2 linked regions of the Homo sapiens genome follow. The protein of the gene in region 1 interacts with the protein of each later gene in a pairwise test. Each region holds a gene or a part of one and is shown in the gene's direction. Other genes may lie near its edges.

What was found.
Region 2: the proteins of ART4 (region 1) and UPF2 interact in a two-hybrid assay, tested with the Homo sapiens proteins (one large-scale study listed by BioGRID).

Annotation. Positions count from the first base shown.
Region 1 is NC_000012.12:14,840,514-14,844,843, reverse strand, and holds the start of ART4 (ecto-ADP-ribosyltransferase 4 isoform 1 precursor), read left to right. Parts: upstream 1-1,317; 5' UTR 1,318-1,730; coding exon 1,731-1,874; intron 1,875-3,690; coding exon 3,691-4,330.
Region 2 is NC_000010.11:12,032,810-12,036,630, reverse strand, and holds part of UPF2 (regulator of nonsense transcripts 2), read left to right. Parts: intron 1-1,189; 5' UTR 1,190-1,207; coding exon 1,208-1,572; intron 1,573-3,821. UniProt on the Homo sapiens protein: Involved in nonsense-mediated decay (NMD) of mRNAs containing premature stop codons by associating with the nuclear exon junction complex (EJC).

The DNA of each region.
Region 1 (4,330 bases):
TAGTTGAAAACAAGCTAAATATAAGATATTTATTAAATAAACTTTGGTGCAAATAATAATAATTGGTTTTATTTGTTGGAAAATTTCTAGGTGCCAGATGCTATTCTAAGGAGTATGAATGTATCAACACTAAAATGAAGTTGGTACTATTATTATCTCCATTCAACACATGAGGAAACAGAGAGACAGAGAGGTTAAGTAGCTTGTCCAAGATCACACATTTAGGAAGAAGGAGCACCAGGAATTGAACTGAGATGTCTTATTCAAGAGTCCATGTTCTAGTCACTTATCAATCTTCTTCTGAGACTGTCCATGGATCCACCCATGCTGTCCCATTGTGTGGCAGCACCTATGTAATGGAATATAGTGAACCTTTGTTTAAAAAATGTTTCAATAGGTATTAAATTATATAGGGACATGCTTACATTAAAATATTAAGGGGAATAAACAGTATGCAAAACTGCATACTATATTATTTCAGTTCTAGAAACCTGTGTGTGTGTATGTCTAAGGGTGTATAAATCAAAATCCAGACCTAATTAGTGGCTGTCTCCAAGTGACGGGTTATGTGTCATTTTTTTCTCCTTTGTGCTTTCTAAATATTCTGAATATTTGTTAATGAGACAGAACTGCTGTGATCATCAGAAAATTTAGATTAAAAAAATTCAGGGTGCCAAAAAATTCTAGAATACTTAAGAACAGCACTTAGTTTACCTTAAAAGTTAAAAATTGAATCCAGAAGTAAATATTTGCAAGAAAAACAATTATCAAGGATTGCTAACTTTTAGTTTCTTAAATAATGAATCCAGAAGTATAAATACAAAATATTTGCAAGAAAATATAATTATATCAAGGGTTGGGAGGAGAAGAAGGATGTTTAGACTAGAAAGGGTAGTACCTACCTAAAAGAGAGTGCTTAATAGAACTGTGCTGGATTAAGTTTGCACAGTGGACCCTATTTTAACTTATGTCAGCTCTACATAAGCAGTCTCCTGACAGTCGTCATTAGGATTCACTGGAGACTGGAACTGTGCGGACAGAGGGCCTGTCTTCAGAAGAGAAAATGGGGGAAGAGCTTTGAACCCAGAGGTACAATCTCTGGATTGGAGAGTTTCAAAGGTGCCAGGGAAAAGCAGTACAAAGAGCCTTCTTTTTGACAATAACTCTAAAACACACTTTGCTCTGTGAACGCCCGTCCTGGGCAGGGCCTATCAGCAGGGCCAGATGAGCCTATAGACACCCAGGGTGGCGCGTTCCCAGCCGCCCTGCGCATGCCAATCTTATCAGTTTTGATGGAAGCCTGGGGCTCCAGATAATGCTACTTGGCCCCAAACGCTGGACAGAGCATGCTTTTTCCTGTTTGGCTGGGAAAGGGAAGGCTGAACTGCTGAGTCTGACACTTAACAGGACTTCGGCATTCCCCTGAATACAGACTAGATCAGAGATTTTATTTTTTTAATTGAAAAGTAACTTGGGTTCTCTTTAGAAACCCTTATTTGGTGTGCGCATCTGGCTATTTCACAGAGATTTCAGTTTTGCAAAGAAGTCGGAGTTGATTTCTTCCCTCAGACAAGCTATTGGTTGTTGGTGGGCAACAGAAGTTGCTCAGCATAGACAGGGGAAAAAACGGTTACGGATGAGACTGAAAGAAAACCTCAAAGGAGAACTCTGAGAATTCATCTCAGGATGAAGCTGCAAGGGCAAAGGAGAAGTACTTGTGACACAAGCAAATGGGTCCATTGATCAACAGATGCAAGAAGATTCTTCTCCCAACTACTGTACCTCCTGCAACGATGAGAATCTGGCTCCTTGGAGGCCTGCTGCCATTCCTGCTGCTCCTCTCTGGCCTGCAGAGACCCACAGAGGGTTCTGAGGTAGGGGGACAATTGAGGGGGTGATCTCTTTATGATCAGTGCTCCAACAGAGCATTCACCCGGCCACAGCCTTTAAATGGCCGAAAACTTAGGCATTCAGAATCTAGTTTCATTCAGACATTTTAACAAATCATGTTAGTAAAGAGTGTTGAAAACAGTTATGAAAAATTGTAGAATCCTTCACTGTTAGTACACTTGACATTATGGATGCTAGTGGCATAAAGTTATTTTCCTGATCCACTGTAAAAATTAAGTAAAATATTGCTTCCATAGTACAAACAATGCAAAATAAACCAAGTCTATTTGGCTTTAAACTCTAGCATACAGATTGACTTAAGTTTTAAGTGAATATTTTAATAAAGATCTGTGTAACAAAAAACAACCTAATGTTAAGAGATGACAGAGTACATATTTGAGATCTAGTAACATATTAACAAAGTTTCAGAGTTCATCATGACAGTTGACAGAACATTGTATTATTGGTTTGGTTTGGCTCGGCTTGGCTTAAATAGATACCGTAGACCTATTTTAATACCTGATGTGAAGAGTTATTGGTTAAAATCATTTAATCAGTCTTAAAAATGTGTTCTAGTTCACAAACAACTAGCTGACGTCTCATCATAAATAACATAGTAAAAATACCAAATGGGATGTTCTTTAAGTTCCAGTTCCAACATCCTTAACATTGACTGGATGGAATGTGATCCTTTAACATGTCCCTCAATGAGTACTGTTTATTACGAAAACATCATTTCTTTGCCAAGAAAGGAATGTTTTAGAATTTATATAATTTATATATGGCTCTAAATGATAGTCTGATGATATTTTGTGGACTTCTATTCAAATCTGTCATTTCAGTTTAGCATGCACTAGACGTGAATAAACAACATTCTGTTGGCTACCCATTAGAAAGGAATGTCCTTTTCCAGGAGGGGAGGGACTTTCCTAGGCACATTCCTGACCACTGTCCAACCCTTGACTCACTCTGCTGTCCCTGAGGGGGACAAATGTACTTGACTGGTAACATGGGAAAAAACAACTGGGTGTGCTGAGTTTGGCTCTGCTCTTCATCCTCCTGGGAGTTAGCCTGATGGCAAAGGGCATCAGTTCTCTGTTTCCCCATGACAAGAATCTTACCTGGGCAGGCCCCAGTTCAGTACTGCCTGCAAACGAGTCGGTCCCATTCTGGAATTTGCTCTTAACAAGCCACTTGCTATCAGACCTAACAATGTGACTGCTGTAGCGTGCCCTTTTTCAGTAAGAAAACAGATATTTTGGCTTTCATATTTTGCTATTTTTATTATCAATGTTTTCAGAACCCAGGTAGACAAGAAGGTTGTTACTTATGAGAGCCCCCTTAGTACTATTCATAGCTTAAGGATAAAGTTCAAGGATTTAATTTGGTTTTGGGCATTCATAAAAGTGATATTTTTGAAAACACCAGTGAGAGACTAGAAAGAGGGGGGAAAGTAGAGGAAACAGAAAGTGTAATTAAACTACAAGATTTTGAATTTTTTCTTCAAAGTACTTACTATGCAAACATGCTGTGATTTTAGTGATATTAAAAGAGTTACTTCCTCTCTGGGGAGATGAGTTTTTCAAGCTTTCAGTAATTTATTTATCAAACCAAATTCAATCTCTAGCACAGGTCATTGATGCAGTAAGGATTGGAACAGTGTAATGATTTTCAGTGTAACTTACTTCAGTAAATATTGGTTTCCAGGAGAAGACTTACCCTTATAGAGTACAGCAAATCTGCAACCACATTCACCATCTGATTTGAAAAATTAAACTCAAGATTTTTCTTTTTTTACAGGTTGCAATTAAAATCGACTTCGACTTCGCACCAGGTTCTTTTGATGATCAGTACCAAGGCTGTAGCAAACAGGTTATGGAGAAACTAACTCAAGGGGATTATTTCACAAAAGACATAGAAGCCCAGAAGAATTATTTTAGGATGTGGCAAAAAGCCCACTTAGCCTGGCTTAACCAAGGAAAAGTTCTACCCCAGAACATGACTACCACACACGCTGTGGCTATTTTGTTTTATACATTGAACAGCAATGTTCATTCTGACTTTACTAGAGCCATGGCCTCTGTTGCCAGGACTCCACAGCAGTATGAACGTTCATTCCACTTCAAATATTTACACTACTACCTCACCTCAGCAATCCAGCTGCTGAGGAAAGACAGCATCATGGAGAATGGCACTCTGTGCTATGAGGTGCATTATAGGACGAAGGATGTCCACTTTAATGCCTACACAGGGGCCACCATTCGATTTGGCCAATTCCTCTCCACATCCCTCCTGAAAGAAGAGGCACAGGAGTTTGGGAACCAGACACTATTTACCATATTCACCTGCCTGGGTGCACCTGTACAGTACTTCTCCCTCAAGAAGGAAGTCTTGATCCCTCCCTATGAGCTGTTTAAAGTTATAAATATGAGCTACCACC
Region 2 (3,821 bases), on another chromosome or scaffold:
AAAGAAAAATTCAGAATTTTCCTGCAAAGTATAGTTTTTTGTTCCACAGTTACTTTCAGTTAACTATAAGCCTGTACTATAGGCCAATGCTATCCAATAGAACTTTCTGTGGAAATGTTCTGTATCTGCCCTGCTGTGTATGGAAGCCATTAGTCACATGTGGAATTGAGCACTTGAAATACAGATACTGACTGAAGAACTGAATTTCAAATTTTATTTAATTTTAATTAATTTACATTTAAGTAACCACATATGACTAGTGCAGCAGTTTTTGGGTGATAATTTTTTCTCCGACGGATATTTAGCAATGTCTGGAGTTATATTTGGTTGTCAAAATGAGGGAGGAGCTACTTGTATGCACTGCATAGCAGGCAGGGACACTGCTAAACCTCCTACAGAGCACATGGTGACCCCTTTCCTCTAAAACCAAAGGAGTATTTTGCCCAAACTGTCAATGGTGCTGAACTTTAGAAACCCTGGGCTAATAGCTACTCTGTATTGACAGATATAGCACAGAACATACGGATTTTAGGTTCATGTTTATTTATAAATTAACTTTAACTAATACAGATGAAGAAGTTAAAAGTCTAGTTTAATTTGAGATAGTTAACAGTTTTTGTATCTGAAAGTTTGATGATAAGGTTAGAGCAATGAAGTGAGATTCGTGAGTCCGCTGTTCTGTTTTGTCCGTTGACATATAGGAGGCAAGGGCTTGTTTTTGTTTCCTTTCTCAGCTGAAATACTGACATTGAATATTATATGAAATAGTGAACTGCCATCTTTCATGGTTGTCAAATGCTAGGGTTAAAGCTGACTCAAAATGTTCACAGATATATTCTGAAGTATTTACAATTAAATGACATATTGTTTTGGAGTTGATAGTGGCTGAATCTGAGTGATGGGTACGTGGAGGTTCCTTATATTATGCTCTCTACTTTTGTCTGGGCTTGGATTTTTCCTTATAAAAAGTAAAAAACAAGTACTTAGACATAGGCCTAACTAATAATGATAGGATGTGGAATGTGATGAATAACTTATTTTGTAACAGAAATAGTATTCATTTTACCTGCCTTTATTTACTCTTTTACAATTGCCAAGTTGCATTAATATGTTCTGTTTAAAAAAATAGTGTGATATCATTTTAAAAAGTCACTGCATCTATGGTACTGACATTCTTTCCCTCTTACAGATTGTCCTGGGTCACATAATGCCAGCTGAGCGTAAAAAGCCAGCAAGTATGGAAGAAAAAGACTCTTTACCAAACAACAAGGAAAAAGACTGCAGTGAAAGGCGGACAGTGAGCAGCAAGGAGAGGCCAAAAGACGATATCAAGCTCACTGCCAAGAAGGAGGTCAGCAAGGCCCCTGAAGACAAGAAGAAGAGACTGGAAGATGATAAGAGAAAAAAGGAAGACAAGGAACGCAAGAAAAAAGACGAAGAAAAGGTGAAGGCAGAGGAAGAATCAAAGAAAAAAGAAGAGGAAGAAAAAAAGAAACATCAAGAGGAAGAGAGAAAGAAGCAAGAAGAGCAGGCCAAACGTCAGCAAGAAGAAGAAGCAGCTGCTCAGATGAAGTAAGGCAGTTGATTGTATTTATTGATGTGAGGGAATGGGAAGATTGGAATATTTTGGGAAAAAAACATTATTTGAAATATAGCGTCCTGGGTGCAGCTCTTTAAGAATTGGGAGTATCTTAATTTACTTGTTCTGTTAGTTTCACTGACTAGAGGCATGCTTAAGGTGTGTTAATTATTCAAATTAAATAATAGTAACAATCTTTAATGAGTACTGTTTTGAGGTCCTGGGTAATCTTTTATTTATTTATTTTGAGACGGAATTTTGCTCAGTCGCCCAGACTGGAGTGCAATGGCACCATCTTGGCTCACTCCAACCTCCGCCTCCTGGGTTCAAGTGATTCTCCTGCCTCAGCCTCCCGAGTAGCTGGGATTACAGGCACCTGCCATCATGCCCAGCTAATTTTTGTATTTTTGTAGAGATGGCGTTTCACCATGTTGGCCAGGCTGGTCTTGAGCTCCTGACCTCAGGTGATCCGCCCGCCTCAGCCTCCCCAAAGTGCTGGGATTACAGGTGTGAGCCACCGCACCTGGCTGTTTATTTTTTAAAGACTTTTTTTCATACAAAATTAGTCAGGCATGGTGGCGCATGCCTGTAGTCCCAGTTACTCAGGAGGCTGAAGTAGGAGAATCGCTTGAACCTAGCAGGTGGAGGTTGCAGTGAGCCAAGACTGTGCCACTGCACTCCTGCCTGGGCAACAGAGCAAGACTGCATCTCAAAAAAAAAAAAATAAAATAATAAAATAAAAACTTTTTTTCATGGTATGATAGTACTCCATTTTTTAAAAAAATTGAAAACCTTCAGTTGGCTGATGTTTGTTGAGTTCTTATCTATCAGGCATTGTACAGAATATATTAGCATCTATCCTTAGGACAATCCCAGTGAAGTAAGTTTTATGATCCTCATTTTACAGATTAACAAAATGAAGCTTAAGGAGGGTAAGTTGCTTAAGGTCACAGCAAATAGTAGAGCTGTTGGGATTTAAAGCTAGGTTGGTCTGACTTTAAAACTTTTGACTATTCATTAAGCACAATTCCACAATGCCTTCCATTCTTATCTTTATTTAAATCTGTTTTTAAGCTTGTAAACCTGTGCAAGTAAATAATAAACTAGTGAAAAATGTAGTTCTTACAGGAGAAACACCAGAGATGCATCAGCAGTGACTACTGTTGAATAGCATAAGCTCTTCTCTAAATATAAAACTTATTAGGCCGGGCATGGTGGTTCACGCCTGTAAACCCAGCCCTTTGGGAGGCTGAGGCAGGAGGATTGGTTGAGCTCAGGAGTTCAAGACCAGCCTGGTCAATATAGCGAGACCCTGTCTCTATGAAGAAAAATAAGGGAAAGCATAAATATATAACTTATTTATTTTTAACTAAAAAAGTTTTTTTTTAATTTAAGAGGGCAACTTACCCTTTTTAAGCCTCATTTTATTGATCTCTAAAATGAGGCTTGTAGAATTTAACTTCATTGGTACTGTCTTAAGGATATTTGCTAATATATTTTGTACAGTGCCTGGTAACATAACAAGAGCTCAACAAACTCCAGCCAGGCTGGAGTGTAGTGGTACAATGCCAGCTCACTGCAGCCTTGACCTCCCAGGCTCAAGCCATCCTCCCACCACATCCTCCTTGGTAGCGGGAACTACAGGTGCGTGCCACCACACCTGGGTATTTTTGTACTTTTTGTAGATAGAGTTTCACCATGTTGCCCAGGCTAGTCTTGAACTCTTGGACTCAAGAAGTCCTCCTGCCTCAGCCTCCCAAAGTGTTGAGATTACAGGCATGAGCCACCATGCCTGGCCTAAAAAATCGTTTTTGGAAACGGTGTCTTTCTTTTTTTTCTAAGTTAGTCTGTAATTGCTGAGCTCAAGCGATCCTCCCACTACAGCCTCCCTAGTAGCTGGGACTACAGATGTACACTACTTTGCGTGGCCAAATATATAATTTAAAAACCTTTTTGCAAGCACGATTTTGTATAGATCTCTAGAACAGCCACCTTTCTTCTCAGAGTTGTTCTTTAGGACTTCTACTTTCTTCCCATTTTTGGGGGGGTGATGGTGGCATTGCTGTTGTTACCCAGGCTGGAGTGCAGTGGCTATTCTCAGGTTCCATCATAACGTACTGCAGTCTCCAACTCCTGTGCTCAAGTGATTCCTCCTGCCTCCTGAGTAGCTGTCATTACAGGCTCGTGCCACCACCCCTGGCCAGGACCTCTTTTAATAAGGAACAGAAGCCTTAGGTCTGCA